Linked DNA regions of Homo sapiens: all the other regions are linked to region 2. Evidence: fine-mapped expression QTL. A gene starts in region 2. Each other region holds a variant in brackets. All regions are shown on one strand. Distances are between the middles of the regions. Region 1 overlaps CRYZL2P-SEC16B (CRYZL2P-SEC16B readthrough). Region 2 holds the start of SEC16B (SEC16 homolog B, endoplasmic reticulum export factor). Region 3 overlaps CRYZL2P-SEC16B (CRYZL2P-SEC16B readthrough).

Region 1 (5,224 bases), 36 kb before region 2:
GCCTTCAAAAGGCCTAAAACTCTACAAGAGTTATCTAACCAGACTTAAAGAAATAAAAATGTTTTCCTAGCAATAGATATGAAATCCATACTGATGTGGACAACTCATCAAGAATTTGTCACAGCCCTGGCCAAGGTCTCCAGTGAACTCCACCTCCTCCTGGGACAGGGAAAAAGGCAAGTCCCCAGGCTTCCCCCGAGGAAGCTGTTATAGGTTGAACTGTGTTCCCAGAAAAAAAAAAAATCACGTGTTGAAGCCCTAACCCCCAGTACCTCAGAAAACATATGTTTGGAGAAACATAAAAATACAACATTTGGAGATGGGGTCTTTAAAGAGGCAATTAACATAAATGGAGGTCATATTGGTAGCCCATTCCAGTATGACTGATGTCCCTATAAGAGGAAGAAATCTGAACACAGACACGCTCAGAGGAAAGGCCATGTGAAGACGTGGAAAGAAGATGGCCGGGCACAAGCCAAGGAAAGAGGTCTCAAAAGACACAACCCTGCTGAAACCTGGACCTCAGCTTTCAGCCTGGAGAACTGTGAGAAATTCGGTTTCTGTGGTCTGAGCCTCTGTTCTGTGGTACTTTGTTATGACAGCCTGAGCAAACTAACACAGCAGAGAAGCATTCTTCAGGTTCGCCAGGAGTCAGCACTGCCCACACTGAAGGTTCAGTCCTCACACACAGGCATCTGCTGGGGTCCGAGGCTCCAGCCCAGGGGGGCCGCTTACCTCTGGTCCAGACAAGCCTCCAACCCCAGCGCCCGCAGCTGCTCCCCCGCTGGATGCGGATCCTCGGCCTTCACCCCCACCTGGAAAGTAATGAGGCAGAGCTGTTTCCTCTGCTCAGGACTGGGGGTCCCCACTCCCAGAAGGCACCCCAACCCTTGGGAGTGCTGAGGGGACCACCCATGGCCCAGAGGACGTGAGGTGACGGTACCTCTGCCCCTGGAGAAGGCACTAACATCCGGCAGAGGTGGGGACTCAGGGGAAGGTGTCAGTGAGAGGCCCAGGCCAGCCTGGTGGGGAGAAGATGCTCTGGGGGTCTCCTGCTTTGTGGAGAAAGAAAGGCAGCATTGGCAACATTGGCAGTTAACAAATTGATGCCCGCCAATTTGTGTTCCCACACTCACGATGGCGGCCTTGCCACAAACTGCTGCTGGGCACTCCCCAAAACCCCCCTCCTCATCCCACTCTTCTGCTCAACAATCCACACTAGCTCCCTACTGCTGACCCTCTAAAGTTACATTTCTTCATCCAAACTTTTTAAAGCTTTTTTAATCTGCCTTTGCCCTCACAGGACCCATTCATTTCCCACCATATCCCATCACAAAACCTCTGTCTCATGTGGCCTGGGGTAGACTCAGGTGCCAGCTCTGAGAGCTCCTAGGTGCTGAGGCAGCTCCCTCTGAAAGACCCACAGAGAGGGGCATCCTCCCCCTCCCACAGAGCCTACCTCAGAGTCAGGGCTGTCTGAGGAGTCCTCGTCTCCAGCGGGGGATGCGTTCTTGGTGGGCTTCGATCGAAACCAGCTGAACCAGCCAAACCCTGAGCTCTGGAAGGGGAAGAGGACATTTTATGACCTGCAGGTTGGCTTCTTCCCCAACTATGAGGTTAACCCGCCCCCATGTAACCATCAGAGCCCAGACTTCCAAGTCTGCACCACCCTCGAGGAAGGGAATGGCAGGGGAAGGAAGGCAGGGGAGAGAAGAACAAGTCCCTCCACCTTTGTATGCTCCTTCCCATCTCCGAGCTTGCCTCTCTGGGCAGTATTTCGGGGAGAGTTTTTATCAGCCTCATCAGAGGACTCCTTCTCATCCTCCTTGGCTGAACTGGCGGAACTCTCAGAAATACTTCGTGGTCTAGCAGCCAATGGTGTCTGGAATTAAAGAAATAACTCACATTTGCATGGCACTTGACAGGTTACCAAACACATTTGCACATACTCCCTCACCTGACCTGCTCAGAAGGCAGTGGGACTGTTGTCTCAGGATCATATTGTACTGAAGAGGAAGGAAGGCTCAGCCATGAAAAATGACTCACTGAAGGTCGCAGGATAAGGACAGAGCCCAAGCCCATGTTATCCCTAATTCTACAGACCTTTGTCTGGTGTGCCACCTCTCCAGAAACAGACAGTTTTCAGAACTATGCCAAGGCCTGGAGTAGGGGGTATGGACTGCTACTGCTGGAGATGAAGAGGGCCAGAAAACA[A/C]CCCACAGAGGCCCACAAGCTCCCCCCAAAAAAAAAAAAACAGAGAATGTAGCAACCACCAAACATAACTCATCTTAGAGCTCATTTCCTAACAGACTTGCTCAAGCTCAACTGTGAACATATGCACCAAAGGGGGGTAAAATACACCCACATCCCTTTACATTAACTTTTTTTTTTTTTGTGGTAAGATAGATACAGGATAAAGCTTGCCATTTTAACTATTTTTAAATGTACAATTCAGTGGCAGTAAGTATACACACAGTGTCGTACAACCATCACCACTAGCCATCTCCAGAACTTTTTCATCATCCCCATTACCTAACTCCCCATCTCCCCTTCCCCCAGGCCCTGGTCACTGCCATTCCACTTTATGTCTCTGAATTTGCCTATTCTATGTATCTCACGTAGGTGGAGTCATATGACATATTGCCCTCTTCTGTTATATTTACATTTTTTACTCTCAATAGAGCACAATTGATACAAACCTTTGGAAATACTTTAGGAAAATAAAGAAAAAAACTTTATTTTTTATTCAAATGAATATAGTGTTGACTTTGTGCCGGGCACTGTTTTAAGGGCTTTATATGTAGTGATTCATTTAATCCTTACAATAGTCCTGTGAGCTAGGTGCTATTATTATCTCATTTTATATATAAGAAAACTAAGGCACAGAAAGGTTAAGCAACCTGTGTCGGGTCACACAGCTCATAAATGGCACAGCAAAGGTTAAAAGTAGGCTGTCTGGCTTTCCTTCTAGGAATTTCTTCTAAGTGAATGATTCAAGACATAGACAAGGGCTTATATACTAGGATGACCAGCACTGTGTGTTATATATGAGTGAGAAAAGGAAGGAGGAATGGAGGGAGGGAGGGGAAAGGACGCAACACTCACAATGATTAACGACAACATGGGAATGATCCACCAGAATGCGAGCTCCTTACCATGGTCGTGGAGGCCCCATAAGTTTACCTCTGCTGCCCTCCAGCCTTGTTTCTCAGCCCTCCTCCCTACTGCTCCCCACTCTCAGGGCACAGTGGCTCCCTTGCTCTCCCTTAACTACACCAAGGGAGCCACTGCAGGGCCTCCAGTCCTGCTGTTTCTCTGCCTCAAACACCTTTCCCCCAGATATTCACCTGGCTCATTTCCATGCTCCACCCTGATCTCCACTTGAAGGCCTCCTCAGAGACACCTTCCTTGGCCACCCCTCTGAAGTGAGATGCCTGGCGCGTATAGTTGTCTATTTTTAGTCACTTCCACTAGACTTGAGCGCCTGAGGTTAGGCTTGGTCTGATGTGCTGATGCCTCCCCAGCCCCTGTGACAGGGTCTGGCACATTGTAGGAACTCAGTGAATATTTCAAATAAATGAATGAATAGCGCTACTTTCATAAAATCAATTTCGTCATGCCAATATTAAAAATCATATTTATGAATGACATAGAAAAATCTCATAGAGTGTTAAGTAACAGATATGAAATAAAGCTTTGCATACATATGTTCTTAGCCATTTAAAAACATGTATATGTGTATAATGTATATACAGATATACATATATGTGAGTATATGTGTGTATATATAGAAAAATAGTATAAGAAAAGAAAAATATTCTGACTGTTGGATTGAATGATATTTGATTCTTTATATGATACTTCACTATTAGATTTTTCTATAACAATAATGTACCACTTCAGTCAGGAAAAAAAAAAAAACGGAAAAACATTAAAGTTTGTTAAGACCTGTACCCCTGTTTTTCTACTTTAAAAAGTTATAGGATGTAACCCTCCAACCAGGAGAAGCTGAAGAACGCCTCAGGTTTGGGACCAACACTGCCCATTGCTGAGGGCAGGGGTGTGTCCAATCAGAGCTAGATGGAATGATTCACCAGACATGAGGACCTTACAGCCTAACTGAGGAGAAAAGACAGGCAGGCACTGTCACAGCTACCACAGATCTTTCTTTGAAATAAAGCCAGGTAAAAATTAAAACAAGGAAATATCAACAGTCTTCCATGGCAGGACAGGGTAGGGCAAGCGTTTTGTGCAGCACTGAGAAGATGTCAGAGGTAACAGAGATCTGAGAGGCCAAAACGAATCAGCTCAGTTGCTCCCTCTCTCCCCATGGACACAGGTTTGTGGGGCTGAGCGTAAACAAGAACACAGCCTCCCGCCCAGCTCCCAGGAGTTGGAATAGGAAAAGGCAAGGCGAGATGTGGAAGAGAAAGCTGCTGCAACACTGAGGAGGAGCTTGCATGTGGCTGGGAAACCAAGGCAACTGGTAAAAACCAGAAGCATTTGAGTGGGCAGTGGCATCTTTTATGCTGTGCGCTCTCACCTGTGGTTTGGAAATGACCTCTTGGCCATCAGGAGGCTGGGAAGTTTCTTGAGACACTGTGTTCTCTCCTGCATCACAAACAGAAATGGAAATAGCAATTGGAAGTTGTGCTTTTCCCATCTATCCTGAAGAAGGGTAACTGGGACACAATCAGCTTTCTTAACTGCAGCAGAAGCTCGGAGCCCATAAGCCCAAGCCAATCACAGCAAATACAAAGAATGCTCACGTAGCTCATCTCAATCCCAGCCACCCCAGGACATGCTGTTCAACTCATCCTCTACTTCCAAAGCCACTCTTCAGGAATCTTGGAAATCAGAGCAACATCAAGCTAGGTCACAGGGATCCTCCACCACTCCTCTCCATCTGAGCCTCCATCTTGGACAGGACCTAATCCTGGAAGGTCTAAGAGCTAATCATTCTAGATGGCTTCCACCATCTCCCTGGCATCACTCAGCATTGCTTACCCATACTCAGCCCTTGTTGTCGAAGGTCTGATGGGCCTGAAGAAACTCGGGACCAAGACAGAAACATGGGTTTCTGCTGGAGAGCCTGATAGTAAGCTCTTGAGTGCAGGATGATTGGAGAAAGAGAACTTGGCCTATATTTTTCCACCCTGTAATCTCTCTCCTAGAAACTATGTAATCATTTGGATGGCAGGAGTGGCTCCATTTGCCCTGCTGT
Region 2 (5,224 bases):
TGGGGCAGCCTCTGGGGAGCCCAAAGTTCCATCCTTGACTCTCTGAATTTGTCCTGGGTTTTGAGTAAGTTGTGCAGTTATTTTATCTTCCTGCAGACAAAAGAAAAAGGAAAAAATCATCACTTGAAGCCTATATCCAAACATAGTGGTTGATTAGGTTTTGTGAAAAGAGCAGCTATGGTCCTCGAAATATATCTAAAACAAACCATATGGTCACGGATACAGAGAAATCTGAGAAACAATCTCAGATACATGAAGCAAATAACAGACTAGACAATTATATTAATATTGCTTAAAAAATTAAAAAGTACATGTGGAACAACGACAGATGAGGGAGGCAAGGGAGACAGATAACAATAATAGGTACAGCTAAAAATGCTATCAAGGAATCCCAGTTGATGTTTCTTCACATATTCCCCCAGCAAGTGTTTATTTAACACTTACAGCGGAGGCCCTGTGGTATCATAAACAGAGTGGGTCTTGCAGAGAGCTAGATCAGAGTTCAAATCCTAACTCTGCCACTTAACTAGCTAGTTCATTTTTTCAAGCCTCAATTTCCTTACCCATGAAATGGAGACTGTAAGGACTACCTTGCAAGGTTATTGACAGAGTTAAAGATAACCTATGCGAAGTGCGTAACATGTTACCTAACATGTTAAAATGCTCAATAAATAGCAGTGTTATCAAGGATAAAGATTAGGGTAGTATGAGTGGCTGAAGATGTTTATTAAACAAAAAGAAATTTAGACTGACCTTTTCAAGAAGCACCTTTTCTGAATCCTTACATTAACCCCCTCAAAGAACTAGAACCTATATAATATGGTCATACCTGCTCCTCCTCCAGAGGAGCCAACAAGAGGCAAATTTGGGATTGTTTTCATAAGAAAATAGAAGGCCATATCTCAGGATTCTTCCCGGTTGGAGATTTTAAATGCTGAAAGTCTCCCTAGCATCAAACTAATTTTCCCCCACGTAATCCTGAAAAAGGGAAATTGCTCCAAGGACTGATTACCTTCCAGGTTCCTCTGCCCATTGCACGGGGTAGCGGGGGACAGGGGTTGCACCCACAAAAGGAAAGCACGCCTCAGATCTTACTCTTGCTCAGGGATTCCTTGTGTCAGGAGCATCCACAGGCTAGGTCGGCCTCGATTTTTTTCTTCCTTAGGAACTGTTTTAGGTTGCAAGATTCTGATCAAATCAGTTAACTTGTTTCCACTACTGAAGGTCCCAGCCTCATATAAAAATTCATATCAGAACAAAAGGTCAAAAGAGTGGGTGTTGAAATTGAGACGTCACTCTGCTCAAACACCAGGGAGCCGAGGTCGACAGCTATGAGCCAAGAGCTATGAGACGGCAGAACACACAAGAAGAACAAGGTGCGGAGGGGGCCTCCCACCTCAAGGTCACTCACAACTCAGGGGAACCTCTGGCTTCCTTCCCATATCATCTCACTCCCTTGAAAAAGCCAGGTGCAATGACAGCCTTTGCCAGCAAATCCCAGGAAAGGCCAAATGTCCCAGACACAGGGAAGGGCACATGAGCCTTTTCTGAAGGCTGGTGGAACTCAAAACCATTTGGACCAAGTAAGCAGAATGAGAAGAAACCTGCTTTCTCCTTGTCCCCAGATAGTCTCATTAGGCAGCCCTTTCCCAACTGCAAAGGTGCAACACCCAATCTTTCCACTGAAATCACATCATTTTGCTGCCAAGAGACATCAACTCCAGCAAATCAGTCCTCAGATTAAGGACACCAAATAAATAACACCTTCGATTCTCAAAATGAAGGAATTACATCTATGATGACAAATCAGACTCACACATTCATGTAGATGACCTTTCCTAGCCCCAGTAAAGGCAATCTTGCCTTTCCTAATCTGACGGCACAGCACGTCCAGCTCAAAGAGGGGAAAGAAGGGAGCGAGTGTTCCCACACACCTGCTCTGATGGCTTCCCACCTTCCTTCAGCGCTGCTCCAGGGACCTGGCCCAAGAGTGCCTCCTCTCCTCTTGGAGACTGTCAAAGTCCAGGTGCCACATCTACCAAGACTCCCCAGGCCCTCAGATCTACATCATGTCAGTTACCTTTGCAACTGCCCAACCTCCATGGAGCTGATTCATTAGGGCAAAGTACAGCCCAGATACCGCAGCCCAGGACCCGCCTGACTTGACGAATTTGCTCAGAACCCTGTCAGAGACTGGCGCTTCTGTTTGCCTGAGCATGGGCTGAGCCAGGTTCACTCACATGAGAAATCATCCAAATTCCCACAGCAATCACGGAAGAGAGACATCAGGAAGAGGAAGTCCAGAAGCCCCAAGGCAGCCTGGTCTGGCGAGAAAAGCACCACCTTTGGGGTGTTAACTCGGGGCTCTACCACTAGCTGGTTCTGTTACTTAACCTCTCCGAGTTTCAGTTTCTTTTTCTTTAAAATGGGAATGGCAATGCTTAGCTTATGAGGGTCATTACGGGGCTGAAATGTTGGTAAAGCAGCACATGATATATAGGTAAGTATGCCCTGCAGATCAATATTATCTTTTCCTTCCCAAAGAGACAAGTTAATTCCACTGGTTGAGGCACATGGGGAAGGGGACACGCTCACTGGTGGGAGCAAACACCTGGTTTGCCCAGTGTGGGTTTTTCTTATGTATATTTCTCACCATTGGGTTCTGGTTATGTAATAAATTCTGTCATCTAGCTGGAAGGCAGATTTATATCCCCAGTACTGAACTGAAGGCACTAAAAAGTTTTCCATTATAACAAGAAAGTAGTTTCTCGCACTTGAAATATACATTTCTTCTGCATTATTAAGGTAAACGCAGAAAAGCACATGACTACTTCTGAATTAATATTTTAAAATTCTGAATTTGCTCTTTTAAAAAATCCCAAATGGTTTATTCTTTCTCTCAACAAATGCTTACTGTGTTCCTATTAAGGGCCAGGATTTGACACACATAAATATAAAAGACACAAATTAGTCTCTCATGTCTGTCCTTACTAGTCCAGGGAAAACCACCCCTCTTGGGTCTCATGGTCATATAGGGTCATGTACCTAAGCTACAAGATTTTCTCTCAGCCCCTCAGCTGACTCTAGAACCCAGCAACTGAGCATAGAATTCTCTGACTGTAGCTAATGGTTTCTTTTTTTTTTTTTCCAAGACAGAGTCTTTCTCTGTCGCCCAGAGATGGAGTTTAATGGTACAATCTCAGCTCACTGCAACCTCTACCTCCCAGGTTCAAGCAATTCTCCTGCCTCAGCCTCCCGAGTAGCTGGGATTACAGGTGCGTGCCACCACCCCTGGCTAATTTTTGTATTTTTAGTAAAGAAGGGGTTTCATCATGTTGGCCAGGCTGGTCTCAAACTCCTGACCTTGTGATCCACCTGCCTGAGCCTCCCAAAGTGCTGGGATTACAGGCGTAAGCCACCATGCCTAGCCACTAATGGTTTCTTACCTCACTCTTGGGCTGTGAAGTTTGGCTCTCTAATGGCTGCACTGTTGTTTTTAATCCTTCTGGGAAGAGGAACTAGAGAAGAACATGCACATTAACAGCAGGAATCAGAATGTGGGTGATGATTACACTGACGTGATATCAAATTATATGTTCTGATATATCACAACAACATTCACAAAAGTTCTTGATGTCACTCTTTTGGCATATAATGTGACATTAGTCTTGCCCTGTAACACCAGCTGCATTATGGGAATGTTAACTTTGAAAAGGACCTTAGAGGTTATTTTAGCAACTATGCTTTTTTGATGATAAAACCAAGATCCAAACAAGTGAAATGATTTACCCAAGATCACAAAGTTACCTAGAAGTTCAGTGAAAATTACACTGGTGTGCTCTAGCTGCCTTGCACACCAGTGCAAGTTTAGTAAGAGCTGATTATTAAATATTCAGGAATTGTGTGAGCCGGTTGTTAAACCATGGAAAACTTGAAATCCACCATGGTGGGAGTATTTACACCACAGAAATTGGCAACTGCTACAAAGCAAGGTTGTTGGTGGGTTGCTGGTTTATTTCAGAGAACCTGTTTAGCAGCATACTGATTTGAACCCCAAACTCTTACTTCCTGATTCAGCATTCTTGCAATTATAGAATTGTCATTCTGTTACTAGCCTTCATTGCACAACCCTGGCTTAAACATCTAGTCAAATTATTCTAAATGCTTATTTTGTGACATCCCAAAGTATCTCTAATTATCTCTAGAGTTATTATGAAACTCTTCAAACACTCACCAACCAAAATTAATTCTAATTAGCTTTAATTATTCTATATAGACATATGGCATACAACAGTTATATGGGTCACAAAATTAACTAGATTGTGATGGGATCTCACCACTCCAAAGGGTTTAGGATTTATCATTTCCTACCTTCCCAGCCCCACATAACTACAATTACTAAGTCTTTCGACCTGGCAGCTCAATTCTTCCTGATTTCTAAACCAAATTGACCCAGTTTGACAATACATTAGGAGCTCAATCCCCACCAGGAGGTGGACCAGAATGAGTCTTGCCACCCCAAGTCCTGGCTGCAGTGTTCTTGGATAATCCAGTAGGCTCCCTCATGCCCAAATGGCTACAGTCTTCACATCATCCTGCCCCAAGTGCTCTGTCCTCATACTTGATTCCTGCCCTGCATCCCAACTATGCACCAGGATTGGAGTCCTAGAAGTTTACTAATTTATGTGAATTTCCTTTCCCAGTCTCCATCCTCCTTTCCAAATGCCGGACAGCACTGTCTAGGGTCTAGCTTCAAACAAGAGTAACTGCCTGCTGTGAACTGAATGTCTGTTTCCTCCCAAAATTCATATGTTGAAAACCTAACTCCCAATGTGATGGTATTAGGAGGTAGGCCTCCAAGAAGTAATTAGGGCATGAGAGTGGAGCCTTGTCAATGGAATTAGTTCCCTTATAAAAAGACACAAGAGGGTTTGCTTCTCCTCTCTCTCTCTGCTCTCTGGTGTGTAAGAATACAACCAAAAGATGGCCATCTGCAAACCAGGAAGTGGCCCTCACCAGACACCAGATCTGCTGGAATCTTGATCTTGGACTTCCCAGCCTCCAGAAGGGTGAGAAATAAATTTCTGTTGTTTAAGCCCTAGTCTATGGTTTTCTGTTACAGTAACCCAAACTGACTAAGACACTACCCTAGTTTGACACCTGTCTAGCAAAAGTATTATCACTGTTAATGATGCTGCTAATGTTTAGCCACCGGATTAGTGCT
Region 3 (5,224 bases), 42 kb before region 2:
ACAAGATTCCTCTACCTAGTGCGATTGTAAAGAAAACATTTTCATATGCTGTTAATCCTTGTTCAGAATAACTTTAAATCTCATTAAGAAACCATTTCTAAAGGACCCGAATGAATGATGCCTGGTATAAGTATGGCCAATTAACGAAATGAAAACAGGCCGTTGTTGAGGCCACATTTAGGGACAACCTCAGTTAAGTACCTAACATTCTGTTGCTTGCAGATCATGCTTCATGCAATTTTCAGCTTAAGACAGCAAACAGAAGAGGGAAAAAGTCACTTCCATTCCACTCTTTGGGGGAAAAAGTGAGAGAGAAACTCATGTGATTGGAGAGACCCAAATTACACACCTATTATTCTTTTCAAGAAGAAAGAGGGTTTTGCACATTCCCTCTTGGGTAGAAAATCTTCTGATTTTAGTGAAGAAGTAGATGCAGTCTCTTGCTCCTCTTCTTGGTTACTCAGAGGAAGAGACCAAAAAGAAAGAGACTTTCTAGGGGAAAACAAAGCTAGCAGAGGCTTTGATCCTGAGCAACCTGAAGCCTGCGAGAGGGCTGAACAGAGAGGACACACAGGTCACTGAGGACTCACGGCTCATTTACAGCTCTATAGCCACATGAGGGGATTAGACAGAGGGCTGGAATGGTAACATGTGATAAAGACCCTGAAATGGAATTTAGTGGTTTGTTCACTTTCAAATTATAGAACATTAAGTTTAAATGTTTTCATATAAATATTGAATTATATGTATATAGCAGAATCATAAATTTGCACACTACTACTCAGCTTTTCAAGGAAAGTGTGGCTCATTTCCTATGACTGATCTATTTTTCCTCCAAGCTTGGATCCTGTTAAGAAGCAGGTGAAAAAACAAACTTGCCAATTAATATTATCTCAGGCTCTTCCCTTTCATACCATGTCTTTTGATCTTTCATTTTTTGAGAGAGAAAGAGAATTCTGTTCATTCTCTCTCCCCAAACAGCTCATGGTGATGGAAAAGAGGGCTATGACCTTCACAGTGTGGCCTATTCATTGCTGGTGGCTGGTCTGGCCCACTCCTGACCTTTTGCCTTTTGGGATACTACTTGTCCCATCTGGCCTTTGGGGTCATTATGCAATTATTCTCTGCTAGAGTCTACACTACAGCAGGCTTCAGGGAGCTCGGAGCTCTGCCTCAGATCCCCAAAGCCAAGCTGCTATGGCTCCCCAGACACATTGGACACACTGCCAAGCCAAAGCCAGCTTCTCCTCAAGTCTTGCAGCCTCCCTTCCCAAGATTACCAGGGGAGCTAGAGGAAAGGGCCACTAGCCCAGTATGCTCCCTTTCATAGCAGTGTATATCTGTCACAACCTGCTCTATTTCCCAAGCCTCCTTCCCAAGCCTCCACCTTATCAAAGGAGAAAACAATATTTTCTTCTGACAGCTGCACTTGCTTTGTTTCACTACAACAGATTTTAACCAGTTGAAGTTGTAAAATAACCATGACCTTTAGCAATACCACCACCACTACCCAAAGAACACAGATGGGCAACTAAGAACTGGGAGTGACCCCAGTTCCTCAGACCCTTACTGGACCTAACATTCCTAACCAATGAGCAACTGGGCTTGTTTTAACCAAGCATACACAGATTAACGACACATTCGGACTTTGCCAGAGTAAAATCTTTCAATTATGAATCACCATAAACACCAAGAACCTCCTCCCTTCCTAGTGCACAGAAACCCCTGACTCTTCCTCTTCAGAAAGTATATTCATTGCTCTGTATTCCTTTGGCCTGGGAGGTAACTAAACTCAGTGCTTGCTTTGTTGAGCATGACAGTAGCCACTGGTATTCCATGAATTCTCTTAACGGGAGGAGGACATGAGGACACAGGCATCCGACATCTGTGCCTTCCTCTTTGGTCTGCAATCTCCTCCCCTAAAGTGCTTTATTTCTTGGACAGGACCTCCCCTACGCCATTGCTCCCATGGGCACAAAGCCTCATGGCCTAATGTTGGTGTTAGAAGGGATGCAGGAAGAGAAACTGACTTGGCAATGACACATATTGAGAAGTATGTTTTAATCATCATTCCTGTCCTATACAGGTATCAAGAACAAAAAATCTATAGTCAGATCTGGTAGGCCCAAAAAAAACAGTCCAGATCTTATTAGATTGCAAATTAACAATAAAAGACACTGTAATAAAGTACAGTTGAGCTTTGAACAATGTGGACATGATGGGCACTGAGCCCTGCAAAGTCAAAAATCCACATATGATTTTTGACTCCCCAAAAACTCAGCTGCTGATAGCCCACTGTTGACTGGAAGCCTTATTGATAA[T/C]ATAAACAGTCAATTAACACATATTGTATATGTTATATGTATTATACACTGTATTCTTAAAGTAAGCTAGAGAAAAAACATGATTAAGAAAATCATAAGAAAGAGAAAATATATTGACCCTTCATTAAGTGAAAGTGGATCATCATAAAGGTCTTCATCTTCATAGTCTTCACATTCAGTAGGCTGCGGAGGAGGAAGAAGAGGGGTTGGTCTTACTGTCTTGGACAGGCAGAGGCAGAATAAAATCCAAGTATAAGTGGACCCACACAGTTCAAACTCATTTTGTTCAAGGGCCAACTGTACCTAGCATATACCAGGCCCATTTCTAAGGGCCTAACTCATTTAATTTTTGCAATGTCCCTGTAGGGCAGGTACTATGATTATTATCATCTTAATTTTATAGATGAGAAAACTGAAATACAAGACAGTGAGGTAACCTTGCCCAAAGTTACAGGGTGAGCTACGGATGAGCCAGGATGCAAGACTAAGCAGTGTGGCTCCTGTGAAACTCACACACTAATGCCACAGCACCACCACTGGATGTCAGCATACCAAATTGAAGGAGCAGCAGCCTTTTAAGGAAAAAAGCGGAACAGCATTTACTGAGGGCCTTCCAGGTGCAAAACATTTATGCATACATTTTCTAATTTAATCTAAGAGGTTAAAAACAACTTTTTATGGAACAAAATATACAACACTTAGTTCAGTTAGTAAAGTGACTGACTTGCATCAGAGGAGCTTTTTGTTCATATTTTTTAAATTGGAAAAATAATAAAATTAGAGTAGACTTAGAAGTTAAGAGGATCTGTCCCTAGATTCCTCATTAACAAAGGGCTCTTTCCAGCTATTCACACTTGATCACACAATAAAACCATTATTAGAAAGACTTCAGGGAAGAGACCACCAATGTACTTTCTTCCTCTGTAAAAATCAGCCAGAGACAAGCATTTGCTATAAAATTATCTGGGTTTAATTATTATCAATATCAGAACTATAGAACATTAACGTACTAAACCTGTATTTACAATTACATGTACAAAAAAAAATGTTCTTTGTGAGGAGCAATTTTCAGCAAATCTGACAAACAGCAAGAGTCATTCCTATTTTGGGTTTGAAAAGAGAAATGGAAATTTCCAAGACGCCCCCCTCCTCCCTCTCACTCCAGTGACCCTCTGAACATCAATTTGCAAAGGCCTGAGGTAGAAAGGGAGGTATTAACAATATCAGGCACTCATTCTTCCCCTCTTATGAAAGGGATGAATTTTTAGGAACCGTTTTCCATCATTTATTATACTGATGTGCCATCCATCTGCATCATTAGGTTCAGTAGTTACCATGACAATATGATGCCTACAGCAATCTAACTTGATAGCCACATGCCAGAATGTGAAAAAATAGGACCAGCTAAGAAAGTGAGAGAAATATAATTAATCTGAACCACATTCAAAAAAATGTGCACAAAACTAGGACCAAGAGGGAAACTGCTGAAATATCATTGAAGAGGAAATTATAAAGGGCAGCAATAATCAAGTTTCAGTATAAAAACTTTGCTAAATAGAGCCATGTATTGGTCTATTACTAAGACAGGAAGTAGTCAAAGTTGGTCTAGAATATTGTTCTGAGCCCCTGCCCCTCCCCCTGCTTCCCATTTCTTGCTACAGGGCCCTGCGGTATCATCTTTGATTCTAGCTGTTAGGGCCCTAATTTCCCCAAGGCTCTCAAGCCACCACCATAAGTGCCACCACCATGTCACTCTGCTCATGTGCAGTCTGCTATTAGACCCAGACTTTCCACCTGATGAAATAATTTCCATCATTGTGAAGCTAATCTTAAGAGACTGAATTGTGCTGTGTCTTGAGAGATCCTGTCCTCTTGCCTTCTAAGTGCCCGGTGGAGGCATCGGGCTAGCACAAACCTCTTGAGGGTCCCAATATGGTAGAGAGGGGCTGGGAGATTGAGAAAAAGAGAGCAAGAAAGTTTCAGTCCTGGGAGATGAGCCTGGGACGTGTGTTTATTCTCAGCATGGCTGGGTGGGATAGCGACGCTGAGCTAGGCGATTTGGCCGATTCAGGCTAGTGGCCGTGGGCAGCTGGAAAAGAAGAACAAATATTACACTGAGTACAGCCCCAAACATGACTCTGCCCGGGGTTGATTGGACAGATGGAGCTAGGGCACCCTGAGCCTCTGTGTAGAACATTTCCCAAGGTTGTGTTCTAATTGCGTACCTCCACCCAACCCTTCACCTAACTGTGGTAAAAGAAATTTGATTTTTATAAAGAGAGGAGGCCAAATGAGACATTAGCAGAGCTAAGTCTACCCAGATTGCTGAGGAACAGGGAACTTAGCTTCTCTCAAAGTTTCCAATGATCCCTTCATCCCCAGGACAGAGTGACACTGCACCCACACTACTGATACCAACACCAACTGTGTCTCCCACATCTCAAGAGCTATTAAAATTTAAACATGATATTAATAGTAACTACATTTATTGACCATTTTCTGGGTTCCAGGCCCTTCATATACATATCTCTGAGCTAGCTACTACTAATCCCACTTTACAGATGCAGAAACTGAGACTTGGAGAGGCTAAATAATTGCTCAAGAACTCACATATCATAAATGGTAAACTGGGATGATAAACCTAGGTCTCCTTAATCCAAAACCTGTACTCCTGGCCAGCCCCTCCCCCTGAGGGCTTCCTTACCTGAGGCACCTGAGATGGGTTGTAAAGAGGAACAGCCCCTTTTAAGGCAGGTGGAGGAAGAAGAACACCAGGGTTGGAGCAGAGCTCAAAGGAAACACTCTGTGATGGAAAAGCATGGAAAATCCCATCAGTGCCTGCCTCCCAGATTCCAGAATGTCGAGGCCTTCAAGAAGCATATCAGGATTATTTGTTTTTTTCT

What was found. PIP is the estimated chance that this variant, and not a neighbour inherited with it, causes the effect. A credible set is the group of variants that fine-mapping cannot tell apart.
Region 1: its variant is the best candidate, but not a certain one, in a credible set for the expression of SEC16B in tibial nerve (GTEx, PIP 0.75).
Region 3: its variant is the best candidate, but not a certain one, in a credible set for the expression of SEC16B in tibial nerve (GTEx, PIP 0.52).

Annotation. Positions count from the first base shown.
Region 1 is chr1:177,931,755-177,936,978 of GRCh38, forward strand. It overlaps CRYZL2P-SEC16B (CRYZL2P-SEC16B readthrough), which reads right to left. Exons shown (of 32, transcript NM_001356506.2): 26 at 4,544-4,611; 27 at 1,730-1,882; 28 at 1,460-1,558; 29 at 944-1,055; 30 at 736-815. SEC16B (SEC16 homolog B, endoplasmic reticulum export factor) reads right to left here. Exons shown (of 26, transcript NM_033127.4): 20 at 4,544-4,611; 21 at 1,730-1,882; 22 at 1,460-1,558; 23 at 944-1,052; 24 at 736-815. Among named protein-coding and RNA genes, the nearest start is that of SEC16B, 36 kb to the right of the region's middle. RefSeq lists an enhancer at 5,086-5,224. The variant A/C (reference allele first, on the strand shown) is at 2,215.
Region 2 is chr1:177,967,950-177,973,173 of GRCh38, forward strand. SEC16B (SEC16 homolog B, endoplasmic reticulum export factor) reads right to left here and starts at 2,109. Exons shown (of 26, transcript NM_033127.4): 1 at 1,935-2,109; 2 at 1-90. The coding sequence starts at 32. It overlaps CRYZL2P-SEC16B (CRYZL2P-SEC16B readthrough), which reads right to left. Exons shown (of 32, transcript NM_001356506.2): 8 at 1-90. The coding sequence starts at 32.
Region 3 is chr1:177,925,520-177,930,743 of GRCh38, forward strand. CRYZL2P-SEC16B (CRYZL2P-SEC16B readthrough) reads right to left here. Exons shown (of 32, transcript NM_001356506.2): 31 at 5,026-5,124; 32 at 3,269-4,410. The coding sequence ends at 4,339. SEC16B (SEC16 homolog B, endoplasmic reticulum export factor) reads right to left here. Exons shown (of 26, transcript NM_033127.4): 25 at 5,026-5,124; 26 at 3,269-4,410. The coding sequence ends at 4,339. Among named protein-coding and RNA genes, the nearest start is that of SEC16B, 42 kb to the right of the region's middle. The variant T/C (reference allele first, on the strand shown) is at 2,322.